Regions from separate parts of the Homo sapiens genome. Here region 1 is reported to be linked to region 2. Evidence: microRNA targets listed by miRTarBase, many of them from high-throughput screens and not tested one by one. Region 2 holds a microRNA gene; the other region holds the end of a gene's coding sequence.

Evidence for each region. Region 2 holds the annotated microRNA hsa-miR-7153-5p (UGAGAACUGACAAAUGUGGUAGG, at 2,114-2,136, shown strand). A microRNA usually pairs through its seed, bases 2 to 8, with sites in the 3' UTR of a target mRNA and lowers its output. Matches are read on the target gene's strand: a 7mer-m8 pairs with bases 2 to 8, a 7mer-A1 pairs with bases 2 to 7 and ends in A, and an 8mer does both.
Region 1: miRTarBase lists ALG10B as a target of hsa-miR-7153-5p. The part of its 3' UTR that is shown has no 7-base or 8-base seed match.

What each region holds. Positions count from the first base shown.
Region 1 is chr12:38,320,709-38,323,980 of GRCh38, forward strand. ALG10B (ALG10 alpha-1,2-glucosyltransferase B) reads left to right here. Exons shown (of 3, transcript NM_001013620.4): 3 at 1-3,272. The coding sequence ends at 505. Among named protein-coding and RNA genes, the nearest start is that of ALG10B, 5.6 kb to the left of the region's middle.
Region 2 is chr18:11,653,783-11,657,054 of GRCh38, reverse strand. MIR7153 (microRNA 7153) reads left to right here and starts at 2,114; the gene lies at 2,114-2,170.

The sequences.
Region 1 (3,272 bases), not on the chromosome of region 2:
CCTGTCTCCTAGCAAAATTAAGACTTTTCTTTCCTTAGTTTGGAAACATGGAATTCTGTTTTTGGTGGTTACCTTAGTCTCTGTGTTTTTAGTTTGGAAATTCACTTATGCTCATAAATACTTGCTAGCAGACAATAGACATTATACTTTCTATGTGTGGAAAAGAGTTTTTCAAAGATATGCAATTCTGAAATATTTGTTAGTTCCAGCCTATATATTTGCTGGTTGGAGTATAGCTGACTCATTGAAATCAAAGCCAATTTTTTGGAATTTAATGTTTTTCATATGCTTGTTCATTGTTATAGTTCCTCAGAAACTGCTGGAATTTCGTTACTTCATTTTACCTTATGTCATTTATAGGCTTAACATAACTCTGCCTCCCACATCCAGACTTGTTTGTGAACTGAGTTGCTATGCAATTGTTAATTTCATAACTTTTTACATCTTTCTGAACAAGACTTTTCAGTGGCCAAATAGTCAGGACATTCAAAGGTTTATGTGGTAATATCAGTGATATTTTGAACTGTAAAAATGGACTTAATAATTAGACCATTTCTACAAAGAACAACTGAATAGGTGGAAAACATGGAATTTCTTTTAGGTGCAGTGGTGGTCCTCAAATTACATTAGTTTTTTTAATATATATTTTAAACATATGTAAGAAATTAAGTGGCAAAGAACTGGGAAAGCTTAAGACCTGCTTCAAAAGCCTGAATAATGGGAAAATAAAATTGTTTTCAGATATCTCATATCGCTCTCGTAATGTTGGCCCCTCACAAAGCTTGGGAATGTTTTGTATGTATAAGTTTATTAAAACTGGGTATGCTTCATATTACTAGAACTAATTTATTCTCTTCAGAGAGAACTATTAGGTTAGTGCAAAAGTAATTGTGGTTTTTGCCATTGAAAGTAATGGCAAAACCACAATTACTTTTGTACCAACCTAATAACAATGTGTTAGCAAATATTTACAAATGGTCAGGTGATATTCTTGACTGAAAAGTTCCTTAACATTTCAGTAAATATAATTTTAATTCTAAGTCAAAATAGAAATGCATAGATAGTAAATGATAAAGTAGAGACTCATATATGTCTGTCTAGGCATCAAATTGTTGGTTATTGTTTACAATCCAGAAATGATGAAGCTCTTTCACTAATTCCTAATATGAAATGTATGATGGCCAAAGACAAATTGTGTTGATTATAATCCTTTAAAAGGGGGATTTCCTTTATGAAATACATATTGTATTAGCTTCCCAGGGCTGCCATAACAAATGACCACAAACTTGGGTGCTTACAACAATTTTCCTCACAGTCTGGAGGCCAGAAGTCTAAAATCAAAGTGTCAGCAGAGTTGGTTCCTTCTGGAGGCTCTAAGGAAGAATCCATTCTATGTCTGTTTCCTAATATCTTGTGGCTGTCTGCAATTCTTGGAGTTCTTTGGCTTATGGGCATATCTTGTCTAAGTATTGCAGACAGCAATCTTCACTCCAGTCTCTGCCTCTGCGTTCACACGGCCTTTCCCTCTGTCTTTTCATTACCTTTTAAGGACAGTGTCTTTGAATGTAGGGCCCACCCTGATCTAGGGTGATTGTGTCTGGAGACCCTTAATTATGTTTACAAAGACCCATGTTCCAAGTAAGTTTGTATTCACATGTTCTGAGTAGACATTGTCTCTTCATGGGATACTTTTCAGTCCATGACAGTTACTAAAGGACATTTTAGGATAATCCTCATATGATTGTTAGGAGACTACCTTTAAAAATTTTTTATTATATATCAAATTATAGTTGTATATACTTATGAGGTACGAAGTGGCATTATGATTTTTGAATATAATGTGGGATGATTAAATAAAGCTAATCTATCCATCACCTCAAATATTTGACATATTTTGTGATGAAAACATTTGAAATGTACTCTCAACAGTATTGAAATGTACATACAGTGCTTAATTATTAGCTGTATTCACCATGTTGTGTAATAGATCTAAAAAAAGTCAAACATATTCCTTCTATCTAATTGAGGCTTTGTATCTTTTGATTGTCATCTCCCTATTCCCACATCCCCGGCCTCTAGCAACCATCATTCTTCTCTCTACTTCTGTGAGTTTAATTGTTTTAGATTACACAAATAAGTGAGATCATGTGGTATTTGTCTTTCTGTGCTTGGCTTATTTCACTTACCATAATGTCCTCCACGATCATCCATATTGTTGCAAATGACACAATTTCTTCCTTTTTAAAGGCTGAATAGTATTTTTTTGTATATATATGCCACATTTTCTTTATCCATTCATCCATGGATGGACACTTAGGTTGATCGAATCACTTGGTTATTGTGACTTGTCTGCAATGAACATAGAGTGCAGACTTCTCTTTGACATACGGATTTCAAATCTTCTGGATAAATAGCCAGAAGTGGGATTGTTGGATCAGGAGATAATATCTTAGCTGATACCTTTTAAATAACTCTCAGTATCTTTACTGAGAGGTTAAAAAATAAGTGACTTCTTAGGTAATATAAAGCTAAAGGTGACTAGTGTTTGATTCCATTATCTATTAAAAAAAGTCAGAATTGAAAGAAAGTTGAGAAATCCTTTGGTCTGACTTTGTAGATTAGGGAACAACTGCTGGGGTAGGATTATTTTGTGTTACTTTTTGAATTTTGTGTTTATTATTTTGAGTGTATTTTTTGGGTTGTCATTCCATTACAGGAAAGTATTATTTGGGCATGTTAACTTTGACATGTAAACTTAGAATTGTGAATAGAACTCATCTTTTAACATAATTTTATGTTTCTAAACTTTAAAAGTAGCTATAAGTGAACAAATTACTTTCCCCTCAATGTCAAATTTTGCTTCTCTGAGTTTTAAGTGATGAGTCTACATTTACAAATATAAAATTGTGTGCAGGTGAAAATTACAAGTATAATTTGAGTAATAAATGCAGGCCATTTTTTGGTTGTACTCTAGTACTCAGAAAATAGATCGGCATTAGTTATAACAGTGATTGTAGAAAAACGTGTTTTACCCAGACTTCTTAAAAATTAGATGAGAGAGGACACTCAAAGAAATTATACTTTTGTCATTAATTTACTATAGTGGAGAACTAAATCTGGGAAGTCAAAATTGAAAAAAGAATGTGTAATTTAGGGAAAGTAACTTTTTGTCTGATAATATTAATGCAAGGATTTTGTATTTAGGAATACTTCTGAGAGGAGAAGCTTCCACTCTGATCTAGTCTGGCAAAATTGAGGAAAATATTCTACCC
Region 2 (3,272 bases):
AGCAGCTCTGGACTCAATGTCTAATGAGCATCTGAGATGGCACCCCACCTTTTTAGTTTTGCTGTTTAAAAATAGTTTCACAAATGACTTTCCTCTGCTAGGGAGCAAATGTCAAAACACTTTCTGAGAACTCCCATGACCTGACTGTTGAAGTGACAAAGCCTATATCCCTTAGAACAAAGTAAATTCTGGTGCTTCTTTTTTGGTGTCTGTTTTGTATTGTATCTATTTTTTAGAGATGGGGTCTTTCCATGTTGCCCAGGCTAGAGTGCAGGGGGGGCATGATCATAGCTCATTTTAGCCTCCAACTCCTGCACTCAAGTGATCCTCGCACCTCAGCCTCCCGAGTAGTTGGGCCTACAGGTGGTGCCACCACACCAAGCTCTGTCTGTTGATTGGGATGCAGCTAGGGTGGGGTGAGTGGTAGAGGTAGATTCATTGGCACAGGAAGGCCCCCACACACATGAGACCAGAGGAACTGGCTCCATCCCTGTGTCTGACTTGCCTTTGTTGTAGAAGCAATGGTCCAGCTCCCAGGTCTAGAGGCTTGAGTTTGTTAAAATGTGCTGGACATCCAGACAAATCAGACACTTTTTATGGAAAGCTATATAAAGGACACCATCCTTCCTAACAATACCACAGAGATTCAAGGGATTCAAAAATCGAGAATGAAATCCGTTCCAAAGCACGATACTGATGGCCTAATTTTGGCTTATGTCCTGCTGAGTTACCCCCAGTAGTGGGCCTGAGCCCCTTGGGGGAGGGACAAAGTAAAAGGTGGGTTGGTTGGGGAGAAGTGTTGACCTGGAAGTTGTAGCTGAACTTCAGTAAACTCTTTTATGAGGGGTATAAGCTTTGCACCCTGATTACGTACTAGAAAGATAATTGCTATTCAAACTTAAAAATGGCTACATGTACTATCTTGGTTTCCAGTGCTCCACAATCTGGTTGGAGTCCCATCTATTCTTTCATGCTTAGTTGGAATCTTCTTCCCTAGCTATATTGATTAAATAGGGATGAATCACGCCCTTAACCACGCTCAGAGCACTCCTGAGATAGTATCTTCTTTCCCCTTTGTTATCAGTTCCTCAAAGACAGGAGGATGTCTCTTATGTGTTTATATTCCCAGGGTTTCATACTTAGTACTTTTTTGATGTGCTTACCTCTTTGAAGTTTTAGGGAACTTGCTCAATAATAAAGACTAGACATTGAATTTGCTGTCGAGATGTTCAAAGCTGAGGCTTTTTTTTTTCTTTTGCTGTGATTCCAGAAAATCCTGTCTTCCATCTGTGTTTGGGAGGCAACTGAGCGGTCTCGCCTGGCAGTTTCCTGTTGGGCTTGTTTCTTCAGCGGACCCAGGTCTGGTGTTCCTTCTCTGTCCCTCACCACGACCTCTCTACTATTGAACTTATAAAAGGGGAGATAAGGAGTGTAAACCATTTAGAAAACATATGTTTGATATTTATAGCTACAGAAGATATTTAAGGTGTGATTGATCACACGTGAATTTCCTTCCAAACAACAAACCGAGCTGGGAAAACACTCAGTGGTGTAGACCGCCCCCTGCTGGCCTCGTTCCGAACCCCAGAGCGCGCCGGTGCCATCCCGTCGCGTTGCCGCAGGGAGGGGAGGAGTACCGTGCCCACACCTAGGAATGTATCTTCGTGGAAACCCCATGGCACAGGGTGTTGTGTCCTTTGGAGCCCCTCCTCGCAGCTGTGAGCTATTTACTAATAGCTATCACGTGGGGAGGTTGTGTTGCTTTAAAAATGGAATGATATTTCTGCTTTACAGTTTTCCTAAATCTGGGCATCTAGTGAAGCTGTCCTTCGGGAATTCACGCTCCAGCTGGAAGCCAAAGGGGGAGGGCTGTGTTCTCTGAGGGAGTTGGAGGTCACCCCGTGCTGGCGAAAGGTCTGGGAGTGGAGCTCAGGAGGTCTGCCTTTGACTCCGGCCTCCTTCTCCAAACTGGGGGTTTCCTTGTCAATGGAGTGGTTTGACTAGGTGATTTCTAAGGACCCTTCAGCTGTGTCATGGTGGGCAGCACCGTCCTGCCTTCCTGGAGCTTACATTCCAGCTAGCGTGTTTACTCGAGCTCCTGTGCTCGGTGTGGTGAGAACTGACAAATGTGGTAGGTGGTCGAAGTCATCCACACCATGGACGGTTTACCACTTCTGTGACCGGACCCTGAAGTCGGGATTTGCTGGGAAGCACACAGGTGCACCCATCTCCTTCCAGGTCACTGCCCCAGTCAATTCGTGCTGGCTGAGGCCGTCTGCGCATCCAGCACTCCTTGGTAATTCTTGTATGTCTTCATTCCGCTTTTCCTGCATTAAGCATGGAAGCTCTTTCCAAACTTCTTGGTACCCGGGTCCTTTGATCCTCCTGCCCCTGCTGCTTACTCTCTTAGCAGAAAACCCTACCTCCCTCCTGCAGAAAAGACGCTGTCTGAATTGCTAGCCTTCCCCTCACTACTGGCTGGCTCTCATCAGTGTTGAATTTACCTTTGCCCCAACCAAAAAGCCAAAATACTGGATGCTGCATTTGCCACCTGCATTCCATATCTCATATCTTTCCTTCCCTTCACAGTCAAATTTCTTGAAAGCAGTGTCTACATCCACTGTCTTCCTTTCTTGCCTCGACTTGTTCCCGAAGCCACTGCAGGCTGGCTGACTTCCTCATCTCCACTCCACCGAAACGGCATCATTTCAAGGTCCCCCAGTACCTGCATGTTGCTGAAGCCAGTGGGCACCTAACACTTTTTGTTTGGGGCACTAGACCATTCCCCATGCTCTCGATCAATGCTCCTGGTTTCCCCCTTCATTTCAGCTGCTTATTTCCTGTGGTAAGGGTCCTGCTTGCTTTTTGTCTTCCTTTGCGTTCTTTCCCAGATGTTTTTCGGTTTTGCTCCCCATCCTGCCACCACGGGAGCAGAAGAGGCAGGTGCAGGGATGCAGAAGCACAGCAGGGAGGTGCTTTAGACGGGTTGGCTAGAAGGCCTGTGGAAGAGGGCATTTGGCCTTGCTCATTTCAGAATTCCTGCGAAGAGAGCACAGGGGCAAGGGCCTTCCCTAGATTACAAATGGAAATGAAGCACAAGCTTGAGTGCCAGAGCAGCATCAGCTGCTGTGTGGCGTGGGAAGGGACCCCGACGTCCTAGGGATGCAGGGTAGATCTGAGCTACTTGCTGGGGAGCTTGCCCTAGAAGTCTGCCAAGGTGGGGTTGGAGGGGCCCTGCAGATGAGAGCGGCCAGGTGAGCTGCCTGGACTGG